Linked DNA regions of Homo sapiens: region 1 is linked to region 2. Evidence: fine-mapped expression QTL. A gene starts in region 2. The other region holds a variant in brackets. All regions are shown on one strand. Distances are from middle to middle.

Evidence for each region. PIP is the estimated chance that this variant, and not a neighbour inherited with it, causes the effect.
Region 1: its variant is the best candidate, but not a certain one, in a credible set for the expression of MEF2C in whole blood (TOPMed, PIP 0.58).

The regions. Positions count from the first base shown.
Region 1 is chr5:89,409,097-89,426,003 of GRCh38, reverse strand. All of the region lies in intron 8 of MEF2C-AS1 (MEF2C antisense RNA 1), which reads right to left. LOC105379073 (a long non-coding RNA gene) reads left to right here and starts at 16,255. Exons shown (of 4, transcript XR_001742436.3): 1 at 16,255-16,327. The variant C/T (reference allele first, on the strand shown) is at 7,253.
Region 2 is chr5:88,872,820-88,889,726 of GRCh38, reverse strand. MEF2C (myocyte enhancer factor 2C) reads left to right here and starts at 6,543. Exons shown (of 11, transcript NM_002397.5): 1 at 6,543-6,772. MEF2C-AS1 (MEF2C antisense RNA 1) reads right to left here and starts at 6,397. Exons shown (of 10, transcript NR_136219.1): 1 at 6,242-6,397. RefSeq lists enhancers at 68-267, 1-390, 5,436-5,485.

The DNA of each region.
Region 1 (16,907 bases), 540 kb before region 2:
GAAGGTAAGGCTGACTATACTAAAATGATTAATTCTGAATGATAGGTAGAAAATAAGCACAAGGTATAGTATATTTGATATTTATAGTAGATGTTGTTGTTCCTAATTATTCACTATCTCCCCTCTAAGAGTATAATTCACGCCCACTCTTACCGTGCCTCTCAATAGGTAGATTATTTTCTGTTTCATTGCCATGCTGAGCCATGTGACTTGCTTTTGCTCTTAGATGTGACATACACTGGACAAAAGCTTTAAATGTGTTTGCACAGTTTGGATAGGTGCTTCTTTGTTCTGCCAGGGGAAAAGCATGTCCCAGATTGGTGCTACTTTTTCAACCTGGATCCTGGGATGAGAAGACATGCACAGTAAAGCAGTGCTAACTTGCAGGCTTATAAGCAAGGAATACATGTTTACTGTTATAAGTCACCAGGAACTTGGGGTTGCTTGTTATAGCAATACAATTTGATTTAACACAAATGCAAGAGATAATTTTACACTCACTATTGGTCTTTTAAACATTTTGTATACTCTGTCAGCTTACTATTCCTCTGAGTACATTTGAATTGTATAAAAATGTTACTAGCAGACTTAAGATGATAATACTGCCAGATTTGCTCCCACAGATTTACCTGTTGGACTCATTGCCATGGGTTACCTTGGCCACTGAACCATTTAAGACTTGACACTGCTTTGAACGATCTTTTCTCAGATGTGGTGACATCTGAGGCTTTCCGCCTAAACTATCTGGTTTTTGGGCTTCCTATTTGAATCTGTCTTTATCAACTTTTCTGGAACGATAACACTGCAGCTGACATTTAAATGTGTTAACCTCTGCTCCTGCCAGAGATGCAAAACCATAATTTTACCTGGTTCTGTGTTTCTCTCTTATTGAAAGTACAGGAGGATCACTCAGACTGCAGATGAGACTATTTGCCTATCTACCAAATCAAAGTTTGAAGCGGATTGATTCTACATCAAACTAAGGAAAACTAATATGCAAAAGGAAGTCAAAGCTTTTAAGGAAGGGAGTGACATAATCACTTTTGTTGTTGAAATGGATAACTGTAATAAAAAATGGTACAAGTAGTGTAGAAGAAGATAGTGGCAGAAAAAATAGGAGAAATTTTGTAAATGCTAAAGTTCAGGCAAGTGGGAGGTTACTCTGAAGTCACAGAGTAATACCACAGGAGTCAAGAGTTAGGGAGTTTTTAATGTCATCCCAACAAATGAAACAAGTTCAATTTAGTGTTAGTAGTATTTTTTTAAATGATTTTGGGTGAAAAAGATGGTGCGTGGTTGCACAGGAAAGTTATTTATTGGTGATTTCTGAGATTTTGGTGCACTCATCACCAGAGCAGTGTATACTGTACCCAATGTGTAGCCTTTTATCCCTCACCCACCTCTATCCTTCCCCCTAAGTTCCCAAAGCTCATTATATCATTCTTATGCCTTTGTGTCCTCATAGCTTAGCTCCCACTAATAAGTGAGAACATACAATGTTTGGTTTTCTGTTCCTGAGTTACTTCACTGAAAATAACGTTTCCAACTCCATCCAGGTTGTAACAAATGCCATTATTTCATTCCTTTTTCTAGCTGAGTAGTATTCCATGGTCCATATATACCACATTTTCTTTATCCACTTGTTGGTCAATGGGCATTTAAGCTGGTTCCATATTTTTATAATTATGAATTCTGCTGCTATACACATGCATGTGCAAGTGTCTTTTTCATATAATGACTTCTTTTCCTCTGAGTAGATACCCAGTAGTGGGACTGTTGGATCAAATGGTAGTTCTGCTTTTAGTTGTTTAAGGAATCTTTATACTGTTTTCCATAGTGGTTGTACTAGTTTCCATTCCCACCAGCAGTGTAAAAGTGTTCTCTTTTCACCACATCCATGCCAACATCTGTTATTTTTTCATTTTTTAATTATGGCCATTCTTTCAGGAGTAAGATGGTATCTCATTGTGGTTTTGCTATGCATTTCCCTGATAATTAGTGATGTTGAGCATTTCTTCATATGGTTTTTTTGTCATTTGTATATCTTCTTTTGAGAATTGTCTATTCATGTCCTTTGCCCATTTTTTGATAGCCTTCTTTGGGGTTTTCTTTCTGATTTGAGTTCCTTGTAGATTCTGGATGTCAGTTTTGTCAGATCCATAGTTTGCAAATATTTTCTCCCACTCTGTGGATTGTCTGATTACTCTGCTGATTATTTCTTTGGTTGTGCAGAAGCTTTTTAGTTTAATTAGGTCCCATTTATTTATCTTTGTTTTTCTTGCATTTGCTTTTGGGTTGTCGCTCATGAAGTCTTCGTCTAAGCCAATGTCTAGAAGAGTTTTTTAGTGTTATTACCTAAAATTTTTATGGTTTCGGGTCTTAGACTTAAGTCTTTGATCCATCTTGAGTTGATTTTTATATAAGGTGAAATATAAAGGTGAGGATCCAGCTTCATTCTTCTACCTGTGGCTTGCCAATTATCCCAGTATCATTTGTTGCATAGGGTACTTTTTTCCCATTTTATATTTTTGTTTGTTTAAATATTTGGCTATATTTCTGGGTTCTCCATTCAGTTCCATTGGCCTACTGTTTATTTTTATATTAGTACCATGCTGTTTTGGTAACTACGACCTTGTAGTATAGTTTGAAGTTTTGTAATGTGATGCCTCCAGATTTCTTCTTTATGCTGAGTCTTGCTTTTGCTATGTGGGCTCTTTTTTGGGTCCATGTGAATTTTAGGATTGTTTTTCCTAGTTCTGTGAAGAATGATGATGGTATTTTTATTGGAATTACATTGAATTTGTAGATTGCTTTTGGCAGTATGGTCACTTTCACAATATTGATTCTACCCCTTCCTGAACATGGGATGGTGTTTTCATTTGTTTGTGTCATCTATGATTTCTTTCAGCAGTGTTTTATAGTTTTCCCTGTAGCGATCATTCATCTCCTTGGTTAGGTATACTGTTAACCATTTCATTTTAGTTTTTTGCAGCTGTTGTTGATTCTTAGCTTGGTTATTGTTGGTGTATAGCAGTGCTACTGATTTGTGTACATTGATTTTGTATCTTGAAACTTTACTGAATTAATTTATCAAATCCAGGAGCTTTTTAGATGAGTCTTTATGGTTTTCTAGGTATGCAGTCATATCATCGGCAATTCCTGATGAACATAGATGCAAAAATCCTCAACAAAATACTAGCTAAGTGAATCCAACAGCATATCAAAATGATAATACACCATGATCAAGGGGGTTTCATACCGGGGATGCAGGGATGGTTTAACAGATACAAGTCAATAAGGGTGAAACATCACATAAACAGGATTAAAAACACAAGTCATATGCTTATCTCAATAGATGCAGAAAAAGCATTTGACAAAATTCAGCATCGCTTTATGATTAAAACCGCAGCAAGATCGGCATAGAAGGGACATACCTCATGGTAATAAAAGCTATCTATGACAGACACACAGCCAACATTAATACTGAATGGGGAAATGTTGACGTTTTCCCACTGAGATCTAGAACAAGACAAGGATATCTTCTTTCACCATTTCTATTCAGCATACTATTGGAATTCCTAGCCAGAGCAATCAGATGAGAGAAAGAAATAAGGGCATCCATATCAGTAAAGAAGTAGTATTTTTGCTAATTAAATATGTTGCACATTTGACAATGTAACAAGTGACAAAGTAATTGGAGAGACATTCTGTAGATTAGATTATTATATTCATCAATCATTTAATAGTGTGTGTGAAGTAAAGATAGTGAGAGAACTCTAATGATTGAGAAAAAGTACAAAACACAAAAGAGAAGGCAGCTGAAAAGTTACTTGAACTAGTAAACAACACACATGATGTGATACTCAAGGAGATACTATTGTTTTAAAAATTAGGAATCAGCTGGGCATGGTGGCTCATACCTGTAGTCCCAGCACTTTGGGAGGCTGAGGTGGGTAGATCACAAGGTCAAGAGATCAAGACCATCCTGGCTAACATGGTGAAACCCTGTCTCTACTAAAAATACAAAAATCAGCTGGGCATGGTGGTGTGCACCTGTAGTCCCAGCTGCTTGGGAGGCTGAGGCAGGAGAATTGCTTGAACCCGGGAGGTGGAGGTTACAGGGAGCTGAGATTGCGCCACTGCACTCCAGCCTGGACGAAAGAGCGAGACTCCATCTCAAAAAAAAAAAAAAAAAAAGTTAGGAATCACCACTTTGGGAGGCTGAGGCAGGTAGATATAGATCACTTGAGGCCAAGAGTTCAAGACCAGCCTGGCCAACATGGCGAAACTCCATCTCTACTAAAAATGCAAAAACTATCCAGACATACTAGCACATACCTGTAATCCCAGCTACTCGGGAGGTTAAGGCATGAGAATCATTTGAACCCGGCAGGTGGAGGTTGCAGTGAGGTGAGATCCCACCACTGCACTCCAGCCTAGGGGGAAAAAAATAAGAGGGAATCACATATTATGTTTTCTTCACTCATAAAGAAATTTACCTAATTTGACTTCTTTGTTATTGGCACTGAAAAATAAGTTCATTCCCATAAAATTCAATGTGACACTTTGACTAAATAAAATTGTTATTACCAACATTTTATGACTGAGAGGTTAAACATTAATAAGTTAGTCCAGTAACTCAGCCAGCAGAGGTTAGTAGCATTTGGAAAAGAATGCTCTAATTTCTCTTTAGAGACCTTCAGTTCTGGAAGAGATTGGTGTTGAAATCCTTTAGGTTAGGGCCTAATCCTTTGGGTTCAGCATTTATGATATGAACAGTAGTAAAGATTGCAATCTTAAGGATGAGAAAATAGCAAGTCAGAATGTAGAGGTTCTCAGACTAATAATCACAGTCAGCAAAGGTTAGCTTCCTGATTCTCTGCTTGAGGGAGATGATGACTCATTAATTATACAAAGCAACTCCAAATACGGCTTTCACACATTTCTCTTTTCTAACCCAATTTTACTTTAAGTGAGGAGTGAACACAAAATGTAGAGTTAAAACTCCTTTCTTACAAAAAAGGAAGAAAGAAAAAGAAAAATAAAAAACCTTCTACTTATACAATTGTATGGTAAATATACTAGTCTCAGCATTAATCTTACACTGAAGATGGCCTTTTGATCACTTTATTACTTGTAATTTTCTTTTTCTCAACATCAAAATGAAAATCTCAAGTTCAACTGGGTGGGAAATGACAGAACCATATTTTGTACAAAATAAGGATGATATTCAAAATTGTATTCTAGGCACTGTTTCCAATTAACTATTTGTTGATAATTCTGATGCATGCCCTGAACAAAAGAGGTAAAATTTATCACAGAAAGAACTATCTTGATGTTATAAAACCCCTGCTGTTCTTTGGGACCTCTCAAAGCAGCAGCCTGCCTTGGTTCAGGACAAAGTCATTTTCTTGTATGATTGACTAAAAAGGGGTCATGTTACCAAACTAAGGTGGAGAATACAAAAAGTAATATTGTACTACTAGGCATTCTGCATACTTATGTTAAAGTAAAGTAATTATAATGGATGTGTATTAATAAATGAATACATTTTTATAAATAAATATAATGGTCTTTTTAGAAGATACAAATATAACTAAATTTATCTTTTCTTATTTCTCTGTAATATATCCATGAAAAGATATCCTAAAAAGAAAAACAATTCTCAACTGTTGCTTAGAAGAATGAGAGAACCAAATAAATTCTCAATTCTTACAATAATTTCTACAGTCTGTCACCTAATGAGTTAAAACCTAGGAATGGTGTCTTCTGTCAAGCGGCCCTAGGCAGTCTTTCTGGAGAGGCATGCTGCCAGAAGTTGTTGTTCTAACAAGGGGAGGAATGAAAGGTACTACGGCAGATACAACTTGAATTCAGAGAAATTGGCTCAGTAAAATCAATTTAATGTGTGCAGTATAGGAAATATTATGTTGAGGATAGCCTGAACATTCCAGCCCCTAATATGTCTAATAATTTCAGGGCTAGAAAAAGAAAACAGATGCAAAAATCCGCCTGAACCCTAAACTCAATTTGGAGAATTTAAGAGGAAAGCAGGAGTGAAATGCTCATCTCCAGCTGACATACTCCTTGTTTTCAAATACGGAAGATCTACCCTGCTATTAAATAGAGCATTCTTTACTATGCAGATTATGAGAAGAGGAATGGAAGTATCTCCCCAAGATAGCGTGCTCCCTAATTCTAACTCCATGTGATACTTCATGTTGAAAATCTTGCTATTGGTATAATGCTCTCACATAAGAATGAAAGTTTCAGCATCACAGAAATACAACAGACAGTTTCCTTTGTCACATCACTAAGCCATTCCTTGAGTTTGTAGTTGAATCTTGAAAATTTTTCTTTCGCAGTGAATGGCACCAGTGGAATTTTCTCCAACACCAAAGAGAGCCATAAACCTAGCACTTGTCACAAAATCTCAAATCTGTCTACCATTAGACTAGATCTCTAGAGATTAGCCAAAGAATCACAAGAAGAGAGGAAGAACAATAATAATAACTTGACTTAGTAAAATTTTAAAGAACCAGAAAAAATAATTGGGAGAAAAAAAAATGCCTGTGCTATTCCTGATACAGAACAATCACACAAAAGTAGATTTTGAAAACAGCTGGTATTCTTTTATACAGAAGAAAATAAAGCATAGTAGCTGCAAAACAAAAACTGAACCAATTAAACCTTGTTAAAGAAAAATCTAAGTCATCAATGAAAATAACTAAGTAGTGAAAATCAATGACTCGAACGACCACTCAATGAAACAGGAAATAAAATTAAGCAACATGCAAAATGGAGAGAAGATCATTAATTTTCTGAGCTTAAAAAAAGAGGGAAAAATGGTAGACATGGAAGAATATCACCGTTTTTTAAATGCCTAATGAAACTACATTACTGGGCAATGATTACCAGCGCTAATCAACATCACACATTGAGATACCCAGAAATTGTATGCCTCATGAAGGAAGTACACAATACCAGCTATGGAGAATTCTTGTTGAAAACAAAGTTCACTCTGATTGAACCTATTAGTCTGTTCTTATGCTGCTAACAAAGGCATACCTTAGACTGGGTAACATAAACAAAAGAGGTTTAATTGACTCACAGTTCAGCATGGCTGGGGAGGCCTTAGGAAACTTACAATCACGGTGGAAGGGGAAGCAAACATGTCCTTCACATGACAACAGGAAGGAGAAGTGAAGGGGAACTGTCCTTTAGAAAACCATCAGATCTTATGAAATGTATT[C/T]GCTATCACAAGAAGACCATGGGAAAAAGCCACCCCCATGAATCACTTACCTCCCACTGGGTCCCTTCTACAACACATGGGGCTTATGGGAGCTACATTTCAAGATGAGATTTGGGTGGGAACACAGCCAAACCATATTATTCATCCCTTGGCTCCTCCCATATCTCATGTCTTCACATTTCAAAACCAATCATGCCTTCTCAGCAATCTCTCAAAGTCTTAACTCATTTCAGCATTTACTCAAAAGCCCACAGTCCAAAGTCTTATCTGGTACAAGGCAAGTCCCTTCCACATATGAACCTGTAAGATAAAAAATTTAAAAAAAGTTGGTTACTTCCTAGATACAATGGGGGCTGGACATTGGGTAAATACACCAGTTCCAAATGGGAAAAATTGGTCAAAACCAAGGGACTACAGGCCCCATGCAAGTCCAAAATCCAATAGGGCAGTCATTAAACTTTAAAGTTCCAAAATGAAATCCTTTGACTCCATGTCTCACATCCAAGTCAAGCAGACACAAGAAATGAGTTCCCAGGGCCTTGGACAGCTCCATCCTGTGGCTTTACAGGGTACAGCCCCCTGTCCAGACTGCATTCACAGGCTGGTGTTGAGTGTCTGCAGCTTTTCCAGGTACACGGTACAAGCTGTCAGTGGATCTACCATTCCGGGGTCTGGAGGACAATGGTCCTCTTCTCACACCTCTTCTAGGCAGGGCCCCAGTGGGGACTCTGTGTGGGGGGCTCCAACCTCACATTTCCCTGCTGTACCACCCTATCAGAGGTTCTCCTTTAGGGCTCTGACCCTCCAGCACACCTCTGCCTGGACAACCAGGTGTTTCCATACATCCTCTGAAATCTAGGCAAAGGTTCCCAAACCTTAATTCTTGTCTTCTATGCACCTGCAGGACCAATACCACATGGAAGCTGCCAAGGCTTGGGGCTTTCACCCTCTGAAGCAAAGGCCTAAGCTGTACATTGGCCCCTTTTAGCCATGGCTGGGGTGGATGGAATGCAGGTCACCAAGTCCCAAGGCTGCACACAGCAGGGGAGCCCTGGACCTAGCCCAGGAGACCATTTTTTCACCCTAGGGATCTGGGCCTGTGATGGGACGGGCTGCTGTGAAGGTCTCTGACATGCCCTGGAGACATTTTCCCCGGTGTCTTGGCAATTCGCATTTGACTCCTCATTGCTTATGCAAATTTCTGCTGCTGGCCAAAATATCCCCCCAGAAAATCATTTTTTGTTTTCCACTGCATTGTCAAGTTGCAAATTTTTCAAACTTTTATGCTGTGTTTCCTCTTGAATGCTTTGCCACTTAGAAATTTCTTCCCCCAGATACCCTAAATCATCTCTCTCAAGTTCAAAGTTCCACAGATCTCTAGGGCAGGGGCAAAATGCTGCCAGTCTCTTTGCACAGCAAGAGTGATTTTTACTCCAGTTCTCAACAAGTTCCTCATCTCTATCTGAGACCACCTCAGCCTGGACTTTACTATCCATATCACTATCAGTATTTTGGTCAAAGCCATTCAACAAGTCTCTAGGAAGTTCCAAACCTTCCCACATTTTCCTATCTTCTTCTGAGTCCTCCAAACTGTTCCAACCTCTGCCTGTTACCCACTTCCTAAGTAACTTCCACATTATTGGCTATCTTTACAGCAGCACTCCACTACACCATACCAATGTACTGTATTAGTCTTCTCACATTGCTGATAAAGGAGGCTGAGTAATTTATAAAGGAAAGAGGTTTGATTCACAGTTCAGCATGGCTGGGGAGGTCTTTGGAAACTTACAATCATGGTGGAAGGGGGAGCAAACACATCCTTCTTCACTTGATGGCAGAAAGAAGTGCAGGAGAACTTCGCCATTTATAAAACCATGAGATCTTGTGACACTTATTCACTGTCATGAGAACACTTGGGGAAAACCTGCCCCCATGATTCAATTGCCTCCCACTGGGTCCTTCCCACTGGGTCCCTCCCATGACACATGGGTATTATGGGAGCTACAGTTCAAGATGAGATTTGGGTGGGGACACAGCCAAACCATATCAGGCTTGTGCTATCTAATTTTTAGTGTGCTGGGTACAGAGGAACATATGCCATAAGAATGCAGTAAGAAAAACCTGATTGTGAGAAATTCTGCAAGAGAAGTAATTCAGTTTCTTCAACAGGTCAATTGGAGGGGAAAAAAGAAGAGTAGAGAGTAGATTTTAAAAGACTTGAGAGACATAGCAACTAAATTTACATCTGAACCAAACCTAAAGTTATGATAAAATCAATGCCAGAATATGATGAGGAGCTGGTCTCAGAATGCTTACAGCAAAACAGTAATACATTAATGTCATGCAAAATCAAATTGTCACTCATATACATGGAGGGAGGGTAGGGAAGAGCTTCTTTTCTCTTCTACAGGGCTGAGTTCTATTTGCCTAACACTCCATTCCCCAGCTCACATCCAAGCAGAAGCAGCTGAAGCAAATATTTACTGGGGACAGAAAGAGGATCATGGAGGGTGAGCTGGAAGAGTCTTTATGGCAATGGCTAAGAACAATACAACTTCTTTTAAACTGAAAAAAAACAAATGAGTTTCATGTACCCTAGTGAGATTCTAATTTAAATTATAAGCTTTATCCCTGTACAGACAGTGCTAGATCAGCTAACTCAAAATCCATATTGCATTCAGTACCAGGAATGAGAAGATGAGGGGAGTAATCTCAAATTAATATAGTTTTTGAATAAGACTTAATAATTGTCTTCTACTATACAATTACACATTGGTTCCAGATTGGTTAATTATGTATGAAGAGGAAAACTTCCTTCATAGGTAAATTTCTTAGACCCAAACAATTCTGTAACAAGAGGCAGTGAAAACAGTCATAGTGCCAGAAACATGGAAATGCTTGCTCATAAAGAGAGTGTGGGCTTTGTGACTCAAAAGTCATTCAATTCAATTCTACAATGCAAAAACACAAAACCAAGGAGAAAATGGGAATTCAGGTGTTTGGAATAGACTATGCAGAAAAGGAAGAACTTTATAAAAGACTTCACAATGGAGATGCCATAAAGGCAAATTTAGAAATGTATGGAAGAATCTAATGATGGCTCAAATTGAATTTTTTGCAAGATGAGACATTTTGCATAAATGGATTTTAGTCCCTGCCACATGCTGAATGCATAGGGCCAAAATTAACCTTTTAATGGGAGAGTCCTTCTGACTGAGTGTGCTTACTTCAATTTCTTTGAACTTTAACTCATAAGGACGATATAATATAATTCACTCTTTCATTCTTGTTTCAGAGTCGCTGGGTGGGTGAGTATGCCTAATTCTGAAATTCAACATTTAGGAAGTACACTATAACACAGATATAAGCCAATTCCTCTATAAAGGAAGAATTGGTATTTTGGTTGCCTTCTCTGTCTTTTTCCACATATTATTTCTCAATTGGTGAAGAGAGATACTACCTATTATTTATCTCCTCCTATATGAACACAAAAGAAAGATTTTATCATTTGAGTTTACTTTCTGAAAACTTGCACACCAAAATAAACTGTTCCTACAGGATCATTAATGGCACTGTCCAGAAATCATTAAACAAAAGTAACTCTTAAAAGGGAATGCTTCTGTAGAAAGAAAACTGGAATTTCCAGTGAAACCAATGACAAAATAAAAGATAAGAGAAAAAAAAGAATTAGAGATCCTTAGTTTACATAAAGCCTCATTTATTAAACAAATACTTATCTATTAGATGCTCTGCTAGGCAGAGTAAATACAATGTTGAACAGAAATATGTGCGCCTGCTTCCACAGAGTTTGAATTGTGTCTAAACAGAAGTAACAAAACAAAACTAAACAAAAACCACCAAGAGAGAAAGATGCTATGTTATCCTATATGCCTAAATTGAGAAACAGAATCGCTATCACACTAGCTGGGCCAAAAAGGGTAATGTGTTGAAGAAACAAGAAGGGAATTTTTTCTTTATCTTTCTTAGGCTACATGGTATTTTAATACTAATACTTCTGTAGTGCAATTTTATTTTCTTTTTTCTTTTCTCTCCCCAGGCTATCCCTATTTCAGTATGCACATGGTAGACACTGAGTGCCCAATGTTGGTTCTGAATTTCAACACACAATTCGGATTTCATCTTTGAGTCATAGTTCCTGATTGACTCACAGAAATCTGTTTGACCCAAAGTTAAGGGTCTACCACACAACCAATCATTAGTAGCCAAAGGTTGGGTAGATTGGGGGTTAGAATCATATAACACTAACATAAGGATTAGCTCTCTTGGAAGACTTTGCTACTTGCCTATGCAATGTCTATTCTCTACAACTTTATGGTTATAATAGAAACCTAATTTTGTATGGGGCAACAATGTTTCCAGTTGAAATATAATATTCCTTATCCTTTCTTGTGGATAAAAATAGTCATTTGACAAGGTTCTGGCACAATGAAATGTAACTTGGATTTTCCAGATGGGGCTTTGGATAAAGCTTTTTAAAGGGAAGACATTAGAGGTTCATGGCCTTTGTCTTTGGCTTTCGTATTCTTCTTCCCCAGAACTCAGATACAAAGCTGGTGGTGGCTAACCATCTTACAAGCATGGAATGGCAAGCACAATGGCAAGTGTTCATGTTAAAATCAGCTGAGTGAAGAGGTTAAAGAGAGTAAGTCTTAAATATTATTTCAAAAGCTACTGTAAAAGCCCTGGACTTCTCACCTGCAGAATTTTGTGAAGTGACAAAAATAAACTTTCTGTTTAGCTAAATCACTATGAATTTTATTTTCAGTCATAGGCAGCCAAATGATTTAAGTACTGCCCCTTTGTGATTAGTTTGTGATGCCTATCGATATCAGATAAGTGGATTTTGATTGATTAAGCAATTCAAGCAGACTTACCTCCAACAATAAATGGGAACAACAACCGTAATCAAAATACAAAAAGAAAACAAAAAGTTATTGTTAAAGATGCAGACAAAGTTAGTAAAAAATTAGAAGAGAATGGAGAACGTTTGGGCAAAAGCCGAATACTTTTTACACTCTATGACAGTTTAGACCAATATATATAAGCGTGGAATAAGAATATTTGTGCAATGCCTCTTAAATCATTCAACACAATGTAAACATCAAAACTAGGGTAAAAATGCAACTATAAGTTAAGTCTAACTAATAAAAGTGTTCATTAGATGAGAACGAGAACGTCTTATAGAAAAATAGATGGAAATACTATGTAAACAATGAGTTAAAATCGCAGATTGAAGTGAAAAAAATACTAGCTAGATGTAAGACATGAACCTAGAGCAAATGAAATGCAGAAAGTTAAAAAGAGAATGACAAAGACTTATTAATAAACTTTGTGTGAAGTCATCATGAGTATTATTAATATCAAACAAATCAGAAATTAATCACTACATAAGCTAGTCCATTATTTACTAGTTTTTAAAAATGTTAATAAAAGCCAAACATTAACAAATATTCATGTACCAAACAATATAGTATCCAAAAGCATAAGGCAAACGTTTTTAGAAACATAGTATTTGTCAGAAGTTGAAAATTTGTTTAATCTCATTATGTGTCTGTGACAGGTTCATTATGCAAAAATCAATAGAACTTCCAGGGGAAATTAAAAAGTTACAGAAAAGTATGATTTTGATGTGATAGAGGTCTCAGTTTGAACCTTGGATCTAAGTAAAATGCTATGTTAACAAAAGCCTCATTTTGGAATTAAAGAGGAAGAAGAAATAGGAGAAAGGAAATATTTTTGCCCCAACCTAAGAAAATGAGAAAAAGAGATAAAGAAGGGGAGGTGGAGGGTAGGTGAAGCCGCAGGGGAGGAAGAGGAGACATAAGAGGAGAAGAGAAATCTAATTCAGGTTCTGTATTATTGCCATTATATGCATTACTTCATTTAGTCTTCACATGTGCCTATTCCCATTTTACAGAGGAATGAATATAATTTCAGAGGTGAGTAATATTCCCAAGATCCAACAAAGGGTTTTTCTTTGTTTTGTTTTTAATGCTATCATATTTTCTTTTTCTAATATTTGAAATTTAGTTTTTAGGGTCATTCTACTTTGAAAAGTTTACAAAATAAAGAAGAGTAATTTTCTAGTTTTGGAGAAACAAAATTTTAAATTGTGGTAATGATAAGCTTCTTGACTCAAGAGTCTAAACTGTATATTATCATTTGCTTAGAACTTGTTGATAAATACTCACAATTTACATTTTTAATGGTCATACAATTGAATGTGTTTTGAGAGAAACTATTTCTAATATTATTCACATTTGTTTTCCAATCTCAGAAGCATGAAACACAAAGGGGTAAATAGCTTAAAATAAATAAAAAGTTGTGTAGTTTACATACAAATTACATGATCCAGGTCAAAATATATAGCAAAATAGAAATCTTCTCACTTTTACAAAGTAACCATTTGAAATCCTTTAAAGCATTATTCTCTTTAAACATTTTGAAACAAATTTGCCTTTTGATTGGAACTATGTGTTTCATTATAAAGATGGAACACGATGTTCTGGCTTACATATTCTCTGCAGAAGGAGGTCCTTTTTTGTACTGAATTTTTAGCATATAGTAAAGATCCAGATTGTAAAAAAAATTAATTTCAGGCATGACAGACTGGAAGTATATATTGAACAGATCTGGGAACAGAAATGATGCAAATGCCTTTCTCCCAGCTTCTGAAAATTATGTAATGGACCAGAATTTCAAGATAGACTTCTGTTTGAGTGAAGCATGGACTCTCAATCAGAGGACAGTACCAAAAATGGCTTTTGGAAAGCAAAGTATAAGGCAGTTTCCCACAAATGGTAGTTCGATGAGCATTGACTGTAGTGGTATCATTATGGCTAAGCATCAGGATATTCACACATATTGTAATTATTAGTGGTGGTAACAGAACTTGGATAGTAAATATTTATTGTGAATGAGCAAGAGCAGTAAAGGAAATTGACTCGTGAAAGGAAGAGGACCAGTGATGCGTTAAAAGCTAGAAATAAAAATCAATAAAATTGCTTTAATTTTCAGCATATTGCTATTATGTTTAAAGTATTATACACTTTGGTCAGTCACAATGATGATGGTAACATTTATACTGCCTATACATTGATTTTTATATTATTTAGTGTTTTCACCTCAAAGCAAACAAGAATACTGATAAATAAGCTGATAAAAATACTTGAAAGATTTGTCCCTTCCTGTCATTAAACTATTTAAAATATGGTAGTTGCAAAGAGTGCAACTGAATACTGCTAACCACTTGCTATTATGAAAATTTTACCATAATGTGTTTGATAAATGTCATTAAAAAAACTAATGAAAAATTAGTAATTCTAATACATGAAAAATTAGTTCATTTATACTTGCATACATATACCTAGAATTAGAAATCTTTCTAATAATACATAACAACTATCAATAGAACAGATGGATGGACTTTTAGAAAGGTTCTGTTAGCCATTCCACTTAAAAATTGTCTACAAATTCAAGTCAATGCAATGCAACTCAACAAATGTTTTATCAAGAGTCTGTTAATGTGCAATTTTTCCCACAAAATGTTTCTAGGGAGGGAAGGAATAGAAAAGAAACACATCCAAATTTTTTTTGTAAAAAGGACATGACAAATCACTCAAAAATACAAACAAAATGCTGTGGAAATATACAGGTGTCTTAAATGTCTGAAGCATCAGCAAAGACTTCATGGCAGGGCTGGCATCTGAGATGGTAATGTTAGGGCAAGAATTCAACGTGAAGAGCTATGAAGGGGGACTTCATTCAAGGATGAAAGCCAGTGCAAGCCTACTCTCATAAAATTACCTATAATACAACAGTAGAAAGCCATTAGCTTACTTTCCCTTAAGAAGGTAAAAGATCTATAAGAGACAGTAGTGATATTCAGTTATCCAAGCACTCAGAGACCCCAAGTAGCCAGGGCTTTTCTACAAGCAGCTTGTGCAAGATGGATTTTCAATCCTATCTCTATCTCTACTCTATCACCTATTATTTATTTATCTAGTCCTATTTTTCAATTATGATATATCTGTAAAATAGCCGCTACCTAATTTTATCAATGACGAAGTAGATACACACACACACACACACACACACACACAGACACACATACACACACTGTGTTTGCTGTTCTCAAAATATCACCCTGATGACATGACCACAGAATTTATAAACCTTCAAACCTCACTGTGTGAAATACTTTCGTAGAAATTTTTCAGAATGATCCTGCCCAAACCCATGTTTTTAAGATAATGTATAGGTGAAATTCTATGTCACATAGACTCCTGATTTTAAATTCTCATTAGGATAAGATTTGTGTTACGAAAAAAAAATACAAAAAAAAGATAAATGAGCAGAAATGTGACATATTAATAAAACAGAGAGAAAAAGAGAAAATGTGTGTAATTAGCTTAATTGCTTTTGTGATGTATTCAAATCAAAATATTTTCAATATTTTAATCACAAAATATATTTTTAATATTTAAAATTATGGCTAATGCCTTAAATTCCTATTGTTTCATCATCTCCAGTAAATTTTCCTGAATATTTTTTCACTAATTATATTTTTTATTTCTCTAATGTGTTTTAAGTAGATCCAAGCTGAGATCTTTATTTCAATGTAAAAACTTTAACATATATATATATATGTTTTTTTAAAACACTCTTTTTGCTCTTAGAATTTTCTTTTTTATGAAATGGAATAGTAAATGGCCATATACTATTTAATGGCGATAGAAGTGCCTACCTGTTCTGGAATCACTTTCTCCTTCTCTACTTATGGTATACTATTCTGTTACTTCCTTTTCCTAATAATACTTCTTTATATCCTCATATCTCAATGTCTGTTTATATGCTCCCTCCTCCAAGAAGTCTTTCAAAATAAAATGAAATATAATAATAATTATATATTTCTTACTGTTTTTACATGGCTGGCACTGAGCTAAATGTTTTGCATCTATTGTCTCCTTCAATATTCTCAGAAACCCTCTAAGGAAATATTGTCAACCCATTTGATAAGGAATCAAGGGTCAACACGGTTCAAGTGACATCCAGGTCTGTCAGATTCCAAAAAGCAGCTTGCTCTTCGTGTGTGTGTGTGTGTGTGTGTGTGTGTGTGTGTGTGTGTGTGTTTTAATCTCATCCTTTTCCAGATGATTGTATGCAAATATATATGCATGAATTTGTGTGTGCAAATACATATACATACATATGTATGTATGAATATGTATATATGTGCAAATACGTATACATGGATGTGTTTGTGTGTGTATTCCTACTGATTTTTGTTGAAGATTACAGCCAGTCTTTTTATGTGTGCCTGCAGATTGGATCATAAAGCAGTTAAATGAAATGATAGAGTCTTATTCAGTCTTTATCCAGTCTTCATAGAGTCTTCTCATTTTTATTATTTAATGCAGTAACTGCCAGATAATAGTCACTCAATAAATTATTATTGATTGAATATCAAAAACATCTCTCAATTTACCTAGAGAACTGTCTGAATAGAGTAATAAACTCCTTACATTCTTATATTTTCATTCATTATTGCCCACACAGGTGCTTTTCACTAGGAATAATATTTTCTATTCATTTAATTTTCCCCATTTTTAAGCACGTTTTAAGGAAATTTGCC
Region 2 (16,907 bases):
CCCTCCTCCATTCCCCAGAGCCCATCACGCACCCTCTTTACCAACAAACCACCGGACGCTTTTCCCCCAGCCGTGACTTCCACAACCCCCAACTAAATACAAGTCGGCACACCCCCTTCCTTCCCCGCGCCAAACCAGCGTGGCCGCCCACTCGTCGCACCCAGGTCCAGCAGGTCCAGCAGGTCCCCAGGAGGGCCCAGAGCCTGCCTCCTGCTCGCCCGTGGCGCACGCACGTGGCGCACTCACCCCCTACCAGCAGCCTCCGAGCTCTAGAAACACTCCAAGGAAGGAACCCCCGCCCCTTCAGCTCCGTCGGCCGGGAGAAAAGGGGGGGGGGAAGGGGGGGGAAGCAGAGACGGGCAGAGAGAAGAGTATATAGGTGATGAGAGCAGTGTTGGAGGGGAGGATCGGCAATAATTGGATGGCGTTGCAGCTGTTGCGCCTCTGCTGAACGCCCAGCCAGAGCGGATTCACTTTTCACACAAATCAACCGGAGGGATTGTTGCTGCCTGCAATCAATAACTCAGCGGAGTGAGTTGCTCAAACTAGAGGCGTCCCTCGTCTGGGTCTTTGAGGGCCGTCCGGATTGAGTCCCAGCGCTCTGCTTTCCAAACAAAGAAGTGGGCACCAAAACGCAGGACGAGATTTTTAATCCCCACTTCCACCACAACCCCGGGTAAAGATTTTTTAAAATGAAAAAGCACACACATAGTAAGGTATCTAGAAGAAACAGTTAAAAGGGGAAGTGTGAAAATCCATTCCTTGAATTGAAGGTTTCTGTGATATTTCAAGAAATGGGATAGAATCAATGTTCTGATGAACAACATTTAACAATTTTGTAAGTAAAGGTAAAGTCGCATTAAATTTATTCATGCATGTGGTTATTTTTGAATCAGCCACACACTTGCAAGCAAATTACTGATCAAGCCTTATTTGGACATACTGATTACAGGAAAAGAAAGAAATGTATCATAATTTGTAGTGTCGTTTAAAAAAAAAAAAAAAACCTTACCATACCTTTCAGATGTTATTTCATGAAGATTGCATTTCTATAAGGTGAATAGGCCCTGGGAGATGTGTATTATGATTCTCACTTAATAGACTGTAAAATGAAGCACAACTGGAAGAAAGAGAACTCACCAAATCACTTGGTAGTGACTACAAGACCAAGTTTGGACTCACTCACTGTGGGCCTAAGCCTAAAAACCTAAACTCAACTAACACCCATAAAGTAAAACTGGCCAAAATTTTTCATTTCTCTTTGACTCTGAAGCAACTTAAAAATAAACCTCAGAGATGTCAACCCAAATATAGAGGCTTTATAAATGATTCTTCACTATGCAAAGTCCTCCTGCTATTACAAATGGGAAAAGAGATATTGACCATCCTGGTCTGATGTGTCTCAAGGCTGGTTCTCTTTCTGGGACTAGCCTCAGTCTGAAGCCAAGGAAAGGTTCATTTGTGTGCACAAAGTCATGGAAAGCCAGACTAAAACAGAAATCAGAACACAGGAGCATTTGTCTGTGCTCAGTATAGTTAAACACTGCTTGGAAAAATAAGGTATTATTGGTAATAGAATTTATAAACCGTACTGAATACACATCACTAATCCCAAAGTATTTTAAATTGGCCTTTAGGCAATGCATAAAATAAGCCCTTTCAGTAACCTCAACTGCATTGCAAACATTTCCCGATTTGACAAATTGTGTTAGCTTCGGATATAATGGATTTGACATTCTTCTGTAATTCTCTATCAGATATAAAACTGAAGGTACAGAAATACAGATAAACATAGAATCCTTAGATATGTGTAAACCTTGTCTTGAAATAACAAATCCTTTGTATATTGCAAATTCTCAATCACAGACATTCCACATGCTGTATATTCTTCTTGGGTTAATGCTGCACCTAGTGAATTTTTGAAATTTAGATATTTGGCACTATTTATGTTAAAGATTATTATCACAATGCATGACAATTTCAGTTGTCTTATATTCAAAACACTTTGGTTTAAAATCAGAATATTGTTACTTCAGATTAGAAGTTTTAGAAATAAATCTATTTGAAAGTATTTTCATATCAGCATTAACAAAATACTATATACTGTTTTGCACTTCCACATTTGAAGGTGCCAAAGAAGAGTTGCAAACTGTGAAGTAACTTCTATGAAGAGATGAAGTAAAGAACGGAAGGCAAATGATTGTGGCAGTAAAGAAGTGTATGTGGTGAGTGCTCACATTTGTTTTTATCATTTACCACAGAGTTACCATAAAGGTAAAACTGCCAAACTCCTTGGCCTTAGGTATTTACAGAATAGACGTGTATAACAATAATAAAGAGTTAAATGACCACCATACACTTTATATTATAAGCAATGACATATCATTTTGCTTAAAGATCATGTCATCTTTCAGGGCCTACTTTTGCAAGTACTGTATCTTATAAAATTAATCTATTTCATGGGAAGTCCTGTGTATCATCAATACTATAATTAGACAAAGATTAAAATATGTAATGCTATTGGAATTTGTGTTTCACTGCTTTTTAGATTTTTCTAAACCACCATGTTCACTTATCATGTTTGTGTTAAAAGTATTCTGGCTGAGGAACAAATACTATACAGTTGAATAATCTTAAGGGGTACATTAATCTATAGCCTTTCTTCATCTCAGGGTGGGTTGCTGTGGCAACCGCCCCAGTTCACTTTAAAATAATTTTTAAAGCTCACTTCAAGAGCTACACCCAGCGTGGGCCAGGCTTAAAAGCAGGCAGACCCAGTGCACAGGGCTTTAGTGGACCGCTGCTTTAATGTAGGGAAGTAGTGAAGAGAGGAGGTTGGAGTAAGATGGTATGCAGCTCTGAACAGAAATTGCAATATTAGCTTTCCCTGGAGTTAAAATCCCGAGGAGCATGCTCTCTGTAACTTCTATGACACTTTAATTAAATATATTGCTAAACATAATTCTTTTGAGGGAAAAACAAGTGACTCTATATTTACATTAACAATAAAGCATTTACAACTTAATGTAGGAGAAATATTTGGTGATTAGAAAAAAATAAAAGCTGGTACAGTAGTACATCAATCCCAGACATAATTTTCTTTTAAAGGAATTGTCACCTATTATTTAACTGGATAGACCCTACCTTCCAATTGGTTTAAAGGGTAGAAACATTTTCTGTTTTCCAATGATAGAACTGGAATAGGTTACAGAACTCATTTAACACATAAGCGAACTGAAGCCTAGAAAGGACAAATCCCTTAGTAAGGCACAAATTTTGAACTAGATAGAGAATCCAGGTCTCCTGACACCTAGTACAAGCTCCTCCCTACATGAGAAAATAGTCTGATCCTAACCAAGTATCATTAGATGGCAAGGATCAGGATGATTTTAAAGAAAAAACAAAAACAGAAACAGAAACCAAAAGTCCAGAAGTATTTAAAGAATACAAAGCACACTCTGGATTAACTACTTTGTGGATTACTCATGAATAATTTTAAATCTCAGGTGATTTTCTAATGTATATTTCTTCATATCTCTTCTGCTTCAACTGTAAAGGCTCATGGGAAGAAAACTAATGGTAATATTAACTTAGGTCACACATAATTAAGAAGCTAAATCTGCTGAGGGGAAAATCCTGTATTTTAAAAGGCCAACTGTGATACATTCCAGATCCAAATTATTTTCAAATTATCCAGTGTGGGGTTATACTTATTTTTGAATGCTTGCAGTATCATTAATAATTATGGGTTTGTTATAATGGGTATTATTAAATAATTATTTAAAATATGAAAAGGTAAAATAAAATAATTTCTTTTTGAAAGAACATCTAAAACTGAAGTGTACTGTGGTAAACAGAAATACCCTCTATAATTCATTAAAAACAGCAGGGCTGAAATTCATGTATTGGCTATGTGTTTGCTCATGTCAAATAGACTGTTGTAACTCACTGCATTAATTTTAGGTATTATGGCAATAAACTTAGATGGTCCTTCAAATGCTTTGCTTTTTCAGGACCTTCGTGAATCTTGAAGAAAATTAATTTTATTTTTACCACCATATATAGACATATCTTAGTATTCGAAATATCTTTGCCCTTTAAATTTTTGGATTTTCAGAGAAGTTGTACTTTGAATGGAAACCTGATACAGATGTTCTCTGCCATATTATTAAAATGAATTCATGGTAATGGCAAACTCAACATTTGAAAAACCGGCAAACAAAATACATTGTAAATACTAATCTGCAAGAAATACTACTATTTCAGATGGTTTTTGCTTTGTGACAGTTTGTGATGCATTCCTATAATAAAAGGGAGGGAATGGTCTTAGTTTTGCTGATAGTCACAATGATGAGCTGGAACTTGAAGATTGTTCAGATCTAGTTGTACTTGCCTATAAAATAAACCTTCCCCTTTCAAGTGAAGCCTTGGGACAGTTGCCTAAATGTTGAGGCCACTCTTCTGAGAGAAGCTACTCACATCAAATACCTCCTACATTGAAGCAGGAGGCTTTTTGAACCATACTGTCCTCATATATTAAAATAGTCATCTGGAGGCATATTGCTGAACTTAACAGGAAATACAACTAGTCATTGGGTTAAACGTAGTGCTAAAAGGAATTTTCTAAAGTGAGGAAATCTTTAGTTAGCTAGATATTTCAATATACTATTGTCTAATCTCATATATTCCATGTTCTATTAATTTTCCCTTCTTGCTTTCACAATATTTTTTAAAAAATAGTTTGGTTTAAACATTTTATGTAATCTATAATTCTACTGGCATGCAATCTTGTCTTTTCATGATTCTATACTAGTTGATGTATTTTATCTTTGGCTTTATTGGGCATGGTATATATTAACAGTTGGTTAGGGCGGGAGGTGCCCAATCTCTAGTAGCCTAAATATTAAAGCCTTTTTTTTTTTTTTTTGTAAGGAAAAGTGTTTATCATGCTTTAACCTTAACATAAGTATCCTCCCTTATCAGTCTCTATTTCTGCTTCCTGTGCAGCTGAAACTCTTCAGGATAAGTGAAGTCATCAGCTATCGGCTAGGGTAGCCTAATGCATTTGGGAAGTTGGTTTGGTTTACATGTTAATGACCTGGATGAAGTCCAGTAAGGTGTGGAAAAGATAGAGTGGGGGGAGGGGGGGAACTCCGAGGAAGCTGCTTCCTCGGTAAATATTTCCAAACTGATTAGAAAGTTCATGGCCCCGCGATGAAGTCGAGATCTCAAATACTGGTAATTATTTTATTATTTCGTACATTACTAACATTAGAGAAACCTTTCGGCTCGCTTTCTAGCGCTCCAACCTCTCAGGGTGAAAACCGCGACTTCTGGGCGTGCAGGAAAAGCACGCTGGAATCGAGTGCTGCAGACATCCTGGACCGTGGTTTTTACGCGTGAGTAACGGAGGAGCGCACCGACCGGTGGAAGAGAGAAGTGGCTAACGCGTGTCCAAAAGGGGGAAAAGTCACAAGAGCAACTATTAGGGTCGCGCTCCTATTGGTCAGAGGAAAGATCCCGACTTTAGAAGGACTTTCCTGCTGGCTGGCTCGCAGCGTCCCCGGAGAGCAAGCGAGCGCGCCGCAGCGGGAGACTAGGTTCTCTCCGAGCGTCCTCCGCAGAGGCGCCGCGAGAGGAGCAGGGAGCCGCAGCTCGCCGTGTTGTCTTCATTTCGTGCAATAAAGAATTGTCATTAGGTTTGCGTATGGCATGTGCTATTACCCCACCGTAAAACTAAAATTAGCAAAATGTCAGGAATGGAAAGATTGATTCACCAAGATGCAATTATCATTTAAAAGTGCTTGATTGAGGTACTGATGTTCAGTGATTTATTCTGCATACCATATACATAATTAAAGTAGTGTAGTGGAGTAATTTATCAATCTAGTTGAGACTGGAGGGGTGAGGAGGGAGCTGCTGTATGTTTGTTTTATTAAAATGCTCCGAGGTCTAGTCCCGCCCCCCTTTTGCAAGAGTGAAACTGATGATTTCTCCAGCTCGCGAGGAAAGAGTCAACGGTTTGGGATTGTGGGGGAGAGAGAGACGGAGAGAAAAAGGCAGCGCGAAGCAAAGGCAAGGACAAAATTAAATAAAGGGGGAAAAAAGGAGGCAAAAGACATTTCATCGGACGTGCTGCTTAGAACCCCAACCATTCGTGCTCCGTCTTCCCTACCACCCCCGCCTCCCCTCCCAGTATCCTTCAATCCCCCCCGCCCCCACCACCCCCAGTCTTTTTTACGCGATGTTTCAAACGCTGTGAGCTGTTCTCCTTTTCCCATTCGTCTTCTGTCACTTCCTTCCTGGACGCAGTTTTCTGGACGAGTCTGGTTACTTTTAATCCGACCGGCCGCTGAGAGCCACTTTCTCCTCCTCCTCCTCCTCCTCCTTCTCTTCCTCCTCCTTCTTCCTCCTCCTCCTCCTCTTCCGAGCGGCCTCGGCGCGCGCGAATGCGCGGCCCCGCGCCCCCCCCCTCGCGCGCGCTCCCCTCGCGCGCGCGCACACACGCACACATCGTCTCCAGCTCTCTGCTCGCTCTGCTCGCAGTCACAGACACTTGAGCACACGCGTACACCCAGACATCTTCGGGCTGCTATTGGATTGACTTTGAAGGTTCTGTGTGGGTCGCCGTGGCTGCATGTTTGAATCAGGTGGAGAAGCACTTCAACGCTGGACGAAGTAAAGATTATTGTTGTTATTTTTTTTTTCTCTCTCTCTCTCTCTTAAGAAAGGAAAATATCCCAAGGACTAATCTGATCGGGTCTTCCTTCATGTAAGTACCCCTGATATTTCTCGAGGAAATAGAAAACCCGGGTATTGTCTCTAAAATCTGCATCAATATATTCCACGGCACTGTGTCTATCTATCCCTGTGCCTTTTTTGAAGGCTGAAGTTGAGGCTCGTTGTGCATTCTTTTTCGTTAGATTCCATGATTTCCTTGTTTGTTGCTAAAAGTAACTTTTTAGATAGTCGTATCCGTTTGCCATCAGCTATTGAAATCACTCCTGACTCGTTCCTGTCACACCAGTGTATTTAAAGTTTCATGAAGTTAGTTCACGTCATTAGCATGTTTGATATGGTGGAGCGTGTGGAGCCTGGTGGATTTTAATATTTCACAGCATGTTCTGTGACCTTGAAGTAGACGCCTTAAGATTTAGCAGTTAGTTCACTGTGGAAAGATGCTCCCATGAGTCCCCCCAAAGACACTGATTTGCCCTGGGTTATGCTTCTGAGCCACTAATTCTTGGGATTAGTTTGACCTAAAGCATGGCTGTCTGTCAGAGTATACCTTTGTGCATTTCCTTCCCTCACCAAAGTGCCGGCTTGACAGAGGGCTTCTTAATTGGTGTGGACAAAAAGTAATATCCCTGCCATAGTAGTCTACACATTTCACAATTCACGTTCGATTTCAGCATATGGATTGCTGTTCAGGTCAAGTCAAATACATAGCTGTTTAAAAGCAAGCAAGGTTAAGTCACTTAAATTGCCTTCTCTTTGGACTTGGAATGAAAGTTACCAAACTCGATGATAAAGTTTGTCACAAAGGAAGTATATATAGATGTGGCACATTGTTTATTTTATTATTAAATATTGTGGAAGTATTTAAATTTAATGCTAATGTTACCTTCCTTCCCTGAACATGGCTATTGCTTTTTAAAGGAAATTTTATATCTGAATCACTTCTGACTATTCTAAGTCCAGTAGTTATCATTCTTTGGGGAGAGCCTTTTTTTGTCACATTTTAGGAATGCGTGTCTTTTGTATAAAATACTTTATATGTAAATGCTGACAGTAGACTAAGTAGAATTGGGCTCTCTGCCAGTTCCTTAACCGGTCCTCAGTGGAGAATTGCTTTGACACAAAGTGCGTTTTACTATTGTGAATCTGAAACTAACTCTAATAGTAACTGTCTTATGAAATGCTTGGGGACTGCATATAATTTCTAAGTGCTATAAAGGAAACTCCAGCCACCTCATTATACCAGTCCAAAAAAAAAAAAAGCGACTAGCCTACTTTCACTGGCACCTTGCAATGGAATTGTGGTTGCAGAGTAAAGATGTTTATGTGGAGTATAATAACTCCAATCCCTAGAGACTTGGTAGGACATGGAAATGTGACCACCTGTGAACCCCGTTTAACCTCGTATTGCATACCAATTTTAGCTTTAAATAGATCAACAATCTCTAATTTGAAACTAAAACATCTTATTTAATTTTAAAAAATGTCAGTTTTGGCTAGTCTTTAAAAACATTCAGCATGTACCAATATGGTATAAGCAGTATTTTTGTTTCTCCATCAGTTTCAACTAAAGATAATGCAGTTAAAAAGCCATATTATTGTCTTCCAGTGTATGCATGAAATTAAGTTAAAAGAAGTAGTTCTAAAGCAAGACTCAGAACTTGATAGGTAAAATGAGATGTCCCTATCTAACATCCTATTTCAAGAGGAAAGAAATATTTTAAATCAAATATCTCATTCTATTTGTAGAAAAGTACATTTAGCTATGTATTCTGCTACTAACTCAATTCTAAAAGTTTTCATCAAAACAGTCTTTAAACATAACATTTGCTTAAAATTTGGTTCTCCCGTCAAAGAGACAGTAGGTGGCTGTTACCTTTACTTCAAATTTTACTAAATTTTATAAAAACCTACTATTTTTATTAATATAATTCACACAGCATTCGAATGTTTGACTTTTTTTCAGACTTCTTAGGAAAGGCAGCATTTTACTTCATTCATTAATTGCACCATTTACGTCCTGATTGCTGTGCATGTGGAATATATTGAAAGATAATATTAAAGTGTAAGTTTTATTAAATGTTAATTTGTTTTTTATTTCAATAACAAATGAGCAATTTATAATAAAAACAGTTTTCCACCTTTTCTGAGCTATTCATATTTTAAAAGTGTGCAATCACAGATATTAACTTTTCAAGAGAGAAGCACATTAATACTAGATAACTCCATGAAACTTAGATAACAAGAGGCACTTTGCCTCTTTTCTTCTTTGTAAACATGTTCATTTTGAAAAATTTGGGGGAAAAGATACCTGAAATTTTTTCCTTGGCCCTAACTTAACGGAATCAATAAATTCCATAACACTGCAAACGTATCTTTCTAATAAATACTTTATTTAAACTTCTTTTATAAAGAACAGCACTGAATAACTCCTTAGCATATCTTAACATTATCTTTTAAAACTTTCTTCTGTTTATTGTAGTATATTTTGTGGTTTTATTTCTCAACTCTAAAGTGTGGTATAATTTGAGTCTATGAAATCTCAGAAAGTGACAAAAATGGGGAAATAGCTGTGCAGCAATACTTGTGCTACATAACAACAAAGACATAGTTATTAAACAGAATTCTGGCTTTGGGGACATGATTCGAAGCAACATAGAAGAATTTAATATGCAATTAATGGTCACAAGATGAACTGTTAAGAGATTATTAATAAAGTTACACTTTTTTTTCAAAAGCACATCCTCTGAGAAAATACCACACAAATTAATATCTAAAACTTATCAAAATACACGTATTCATTCTATACTAATGTGGTGATTGCCTAGACACGATGAAATGATTTAATCACTGTTGTTCCATCAGTATGCTGCATGTGGAAAGACAGGTAATTAAGATCCCCGTCCTTAGCACTGTACCTTAATCTTATAGGCGCGTGGACTGTCTTGCACTCAGTAAAGCTTGACTGTTCACCGAGATCTGTCACCTTTAGGAAATCAAACCAGATTACAGAGGTGATTCACAAAACCAGGAACAACAGAGTCTATGCACGTTACAAAAGGCAGATTACATAGTTCACATGTTATTTTGATAGGTCAAAGATAAAAGCTGATTGTTGAGGAATGGCAAGACACTCAATTTCAAATGATTGCTTAGATAAGCATACTTTGACCCTGTTGCTTCATCATTATGATCCATTCAAACAATGGAAAATTCAGTTTTCAAATGACAGGCTTTCAGTAGTGAAGTAAGAGAAAACATGTCCTTTTTTATGTATGTCTTCATTGTGTAAATTTTAAGTTCCATCATTTCTTTATGAACAAACATTAAATTGTCTGCTTACATGAAGCAGGTATTGTAAGGCTTAAATGCATTAGACATTTTCAGAGGCGTTATAAAGAGCACAAAACAGAATTTGCCAGAAATAAAACATACACTCATGTTATTGAGTAATTCAGCAGAAAATGCATAATAGTCAATATCCATTATGTTATTCTGTTACCAAATATATTCTACATAAAAATGTGTAATTACATAGTTATGAATCCATATATGTGAAACATATCTTCATAAAAGTTCATTGGTCAAATTTTATATATATATATAATATATATATTTCATGAATGTTATATAAAGATCATTCTTTACAACAGAATATGATGTTTTGAGAGTTTATTTCAGAGAATAAAGTTTTGGTTTACATAATAACATTTTGAAAATCTTAACTTCTTACACACCCAACTTTACAGTAATTTTTTGCTTCTTCTAAAATTGAAGTCCTTTTTTACCCAACTGATGCCTCCTAGTGTTTCACACAATAAAACACTAATGAGTCACCCATAAATGTAAACATTGCATTTTCATTGCCTACATCATCTGTGATACATAAAATTAATATTTATGTGTTTAATTTTCTGTGCACTATTATAATAAGATAGAAAATTTTAGTGAATGAGATGTTTCATCTGAGTGGATTTGTGGCACGCACTTGCAGGTTTTCTTTGACCATCACAATATCTTACTAAGTTTTAACAAGTTTATTACCTTCAGTTGCAGTTATATATTCACTCTTTATATTCACTCTTATTTCAAGTGAGAAACATAGGTAAATAACAAAGCTTTCATTTTGTAGGCCTGGGAATTATACAGTTGGGTTCATTCTGAAATGCCTGATAAATTGCACAAGGACTATCCATTTCATTTACACACTAAAATATCTTAAAAGAGATATAATTTTTTTTCCTGCTGTGTCTTTACACTTGAAAATTTCTTTGTAAAAGTGGAATAAAGAAAGACTATTTAGAAAAGATAAAATCAAAGATAAATGCAAAATTTTCTATAAATATGGAGTATATTTATTAGAAAATAACAACAAAAGAAAAACTTTCCTTGGAAGGAAACATATTATTCTACATAAAGGGAAGTCGTGTTAGAACACAATATCCAATGACCAGCAGCTTGCCTTAATGAGGTAGAAGTTAGTGGGTGCCAACTTTGGTGTGAGTTTTCTGCCATTAGGATGGTAAGCGTAGACCTGTGATATTTTTGCATGTTTGTGATTTCAAACAGCTCTCTGATTCTACTTCCTAAGTTTCTAAATGTTTTTTATCCAATATACTTATGAAAGAAAGGGGTCATTCCTGTAATGGGTCTTAAATTGAAAGGAGGCCATCAAAAACTTGTAACATTCATGGGCCTCTTCCTGAGGTGTCATACAACATACCTGTACACAAAAACATTCATGAGTTTCTTCTACTAACACAAACATTCTATAGCATCCAAGTGTAGACACTAGATTGAACTTCATTCTGTATATGTGTCATTTAGTTCTCCTGACTCAAAATACACAGTGTATTAACAATATTTGACTATCACTTAAGATTTTCTAATTTAGTCAATAATACAGTGCTATTACAATTGTTGGACACATTTCAAAGAATGTAAGGGGGTGTGTTCCTTTCGTTCAAGGAAGCAAACATGTAGAAAGGGGTGGACCTTTCCCACAAGAGCCACATTTCTTCCCTTGGAGAATTGAAGCAAATATGCAGTACGTAAGTGAATAGCAGCATGAGAAAGAAAATAATTTGCAATGATCTCCTATAGTTAGTGAGCAAAGAAAATTGTCAGTTTTTTTTAAAGTAGCTCTTATTGACAACCTATCTTAAACTGAATACTGAAAAAAAGTCTATGAAAGTTTTATAATTTCAGTATGTTTTAACATTCATGCGTGAAATAACTGTAAAGTACACTGTAATAATTTTGGTCTTGCTCAAATCAAGAATTTTTTAGTAACCATGTTATTTTACAGACAATATTGAGGCATAACAAAATAAAGGGTGCTGGAAGCATTCATTCCTTACCCCTCTCTTTTAAGAATACGAAGATGGCATTGATGTTCTTTTGTTATTTTTGTCTGTGAAAGAAAAATAATTAAAGAATGTTCTATGACAAAGAATACCATTGTAAAAATAAGATTATAGAAAAGGTTATTTAATATACTATTATCTCACATCTCCTTGATACTATTTTAATGTTTACTGCAAAAAATCATATTCCTATTAAATATGGAAATTAGGTGATACATGTTATACAAATTTATGGTTTAGTTTTAGGTGATATGAGTAACATTTATTTGTCATCGCCATAATTCATTTGCTGTACATTGTCATTTTATTGTACAAGTTAAATCTTGGTATATATTTTTAAAATACAGCCAATGTAAACAAAGTTCAAAGTACATGAAGAGAATCTTTTGAGGGCATTGAAAAGGAAATTGACGACATTACAAGCAATAAAAACAGTAAACATATTACAGGCAGATTTCTTCAGGAATCATTACTCTTAAATAATGCAGACATTATAAAGACTTTATTAATTCTTAATGCTGTAAATTTGAAATGAATGGAGCAATGTTGTTCCTCCTGCAAGTGGTTGGGATTCATGTAGAATGACAGTGCAAGTCCTCAAGCAGTGATTTAAATTAAGTACCCAAAACTTGTTTTTAGAGGCTGGAGGAACTAACTGATCTTTGAATCAGTCCCTTTTGAGAACCTGCTTTTTCCAAATAGCATCATGAGCGTGGTGGTCTGGTTTTCCTCTTCTATCTTGTTGTCATAGATAAGATGCACATGAAGAATTCATATAAATTGCTCTCAGATACTATGGATTCCTAGCATATTGGATTAAAAAAGAAGTGGATATGGTCCTTCGATAGAATGTGAAGTGTTTTTTTAAAAATCAGCCAAGAACTATGCCTGTCTTTTTTTCACACCTGTGATTCTTTCAGCAAGTTAGAAGGATAGCAAGAGAATGTGCATCCTTCCCCAAACCCCGAAGACAGGCAGCTTTGGCTTAAATATGCTTATTTATTTTCAAAATTAGAAAATAAACACATTAATGTAAATATGTTGAGACAGACAAAGAAATTTGTCTGCTACTTAATAAACACGCGATTTATACTTTTTGTCTTCTAATTAATTGTCGACCCTGAATAAGGTGGTACAACTAAGGCATATTATGGAAAACTGGCATTATTGCTTAATGTAACATGAGGGATTGGAATTTCTTTAAAGTAATTTTAAGATATGATTATTTAGCAGAAATATTCACTGGAGCATTTTACTTTTAGAAATTATCGTCACACAAGGAAGCCTTTATAGGACCGACTACCTAATTGCAGTCAAAGATCTCTTGAATGAATGAACACACACACACAGAAGAACACACATTTTAAGAATATAGTGGTCCTATATTTTTAAAAATTTTTGCCACATTTTTTATATCTGAACAGAACGTATGTGTCTAAGCAGATGTTTTAAGTTATATCCTTCATGTAGGTGAGTCTGTAAATGTACCATTTAACTTAAATGGCTTTGTGGGAAGGTAGTTTGAGGAGTTTAAAAAGGAAAAAAAAAAAAAAAAAAAACTCCAGTTACTACAGTTTCAGCTCTTTCTTTTTAAAAAACAGTAATTACACTCAGGATAAAGAAAGAAAAATAAACTCTTTTAATTCTTTGTAACATCCACAGTTTTTCAGGTAGAGTTCTGGTATATTTTTATTCCTGAATATGCAGGGCAGGTACTGGCAGCAGAGCTACAAAATGAAAACTTCCTGGCTGCAGACCAGATACTGTGCACAGTGCCACATCATAAACTTCCCCTCTTCTGTCTCGGAGTGATTTCAGCCCTAACTAATGTCCTTTATTTCCCCCTACATAGGGTAAGGAACAGAGGGCCTTCTTCCTGGGAAATAGGGGAAATACCTTTGGGAAAGGAAAAGTATAATGTTTCCCTTCTTTAACTTGAAAATTCTGCCTCTTAAATTACTAAGACATTAACTGCAAAGTGGATTCAGTATGTTTCCTTTTTATTCCCATATAGCAGTTTAGAATACATAAAACAATAGGTGTGAGATAGAAAATGAGACCTCTTCCCCACCCCCTACCTCCAGCACACCCAGACCCAATCAGATATCTGTACTTTTTGTTTCGAAAAGAAAAATATAATGGTTTCTTTTCAATGAAGCTTGTGCATTATATTCCAGATATGTTAGATCATTTTGTGATGCAAATTAGCATTGAGGTTTTTTGTACTTATCTCGGGAAATAGCAACGTTCCACCACAATGTGTGGTGCTGCAAAAATTTTTATTGATAAACACCCACACTTTAAATGATTATTAGGTCAAAATAGAGAGTACAGGGGGAGAAAATGTGAGCTTTTAGTTTTCAGATTTGTTTTATGCTTTTCATTTGAAAGGTACAGTGTAAGTTCTGTGTATAATACCATGCAAAATAAATTGACTTCTAAATATCTGCACTAATATTCCTTGTATCTGAAACTATAGTCTAAAAGCTTGTACTTCTCCTTAAAAAATAAAGTAAAACTTTGTTAAGAAGCAGGCTTTAATTACCAGTTACATTTTCAACTGTTACCCATGTGATTTTTAAAAAATCCTATTAAAAAATAATTTCTAGCTGCCATGGCTCCTTTCAATCAGTAGAATTCTCATTTGTATGAGGTGCAATCAGATTATTGCCAGCACACCTTTCTAAAACTAGCCTTCTTCTTTAGAAATGTATTAAATGGGAGCCTTCAGGAGAAAGTGTTACCACTTAATAAATATTTGTTCTAATTTTATTTTTAAACTAAATTATTGATTTAACAGTATATGAATAGTGTATAAATGTTAGCTTAGTTGTTAACCCACTACACTAATTATTAATTGCCTATATGAAATTTACCAAATTAGACCAACAGTTAAGTGTAATTTAATTTTATTTCTCTTGAAACTTAAATAGATAAGAATGATAATTTTAATTATGTTTAAATATCAAGCATTTATTTTTCTGTGAATGCAAATGTTCCCGATAAATTGTTAAGAAATTAATACAACATAGATCTTAAAAAATGTATAAGGCAGCTTATAAGAATATGATAACAATGGCATATTCCTACACCTGGCACTTTTTCAAGACCCATTAGCAAGGGAGGAAAAAGATGTTAAACTTTGTTTTGTAAATGCTAATATATATATGAGTCAATACTTTCTGACATTTATTTGTTAGAAAATTACACACATTTAAAAATTCAAATTAAAACTATGCTTCTATTTAGGCTATTGTAAGAGATTTCTTTATTTTCTTGGAAATTCTCTGGAACAGTAGGGTCATTTGAATCATACCCGTTGGTATTGTCAGATACATTGTAAAGTTTCAACTATTGAACATATGTATGGAATAGAAATTTTAAAATAGAAAATTCGCTATCTTGCCATTTAAGTATGATAAAACTATACCCGATTAAAACGTTGACTCTATTAGAGGTTCGCCTAGTAAGTAATTCTCTGGTCAAGAATTTGGGAAATTTTAAACTCTGTTAACCATTAAAACAATTACTTCTTTAAGGTACCGGATTTTCATCCATATTTGAGGAGCCTTATTAAGTTGTTGGGTGGTCTTTTTGTAAAGGTTTATGTGGTTAAAAAAGTAGATCTTTTCACCCTTCTATTACAGTTAACATTAATATCTTTAAAAGGTACTATATAAATCCAGACCTAATTTATTCTGGATGATTTTTCTTAACTAAATGAAATCTAACAAATTTGTCTATTTTTAAGTGAATCTTTTTTTTATTTCTAGTATTTATTGGAAGTTCACTTAGACTCTATATAGGTTAGAAGTTAAAGTAAATAATTTTGACTATTTTTTTCTTTCATTTCATGTTTGAATATTTCCCCCTTTACATAAACCAAAAAAAAAAAAAAAAAAAAAAAAAAAAAATCCGTGACGACATTGATAGATTTGCAGAAGGCTGAGTAAGATACTCAGTACCCATTAATTGTTTCCCTATGACTCTTGGGTTGAAATGAATCGGCAATATCCCTTCCAAGACTGTTTGATCTTGCTTGATTTAGAGTGAGCGTTATGTGATTTTTTCCCTCCGCTTCTCTCATTTTATAGCTTCAAAAAAATCAGAGAATTCTTGACTTCAGTGTTTTTTCCTTCCGTTTTCATTGTTTTTGGATTCTCTCCTGTCTGAGCTTCCTTCTTGCTTCAAAGTATTTGGTATCGTGAAAGCAAGTGCACTTTTAACTTGTTTTGACTACACATGGGCGACAGAATTGTTTTAGATGCTAACTTACCTCCTTACACTTGAGAAACTGATGTGGTTCATCACAGCCCAATGCCATGTCTTGAAACAACTGCGGACACTGATCTTGAAATAGCCAGGGCTATAGGATCATGTCTTTGTAAAGAACAACAGCAGCTTTAGAGTCACTGGATGGTATATTCGTTGCAAACATGAACAGCTTCATGAACTCCCAGGAAGTGGTACAGTTATTGGACAAGGTCAACCACATTATGCCTTTTAGGTTGCTCTATGAAGTAAGTGTTAGACCAGAACTCCAACGGTGTGAGTGTGTGTGTGTGTATGTGTGTACGGTGTGGGGAGCATCGGTGTGGGAGAGCAGAGAGAGAGAAAAAGCATGAAAGGATGAAGATACACTCTCGAGAGAGAAGATCGTTTAAACAAGCATAAAGAGTTTGGAGACTCCATTTCCACACTTAATATCATTTCTTTGATTCTACATATTATGCTATTAGACAAACATGTCCATAAACAATAAAGAATAATGATTAAGAACAACGACCAAAACTGGGTTCAAAA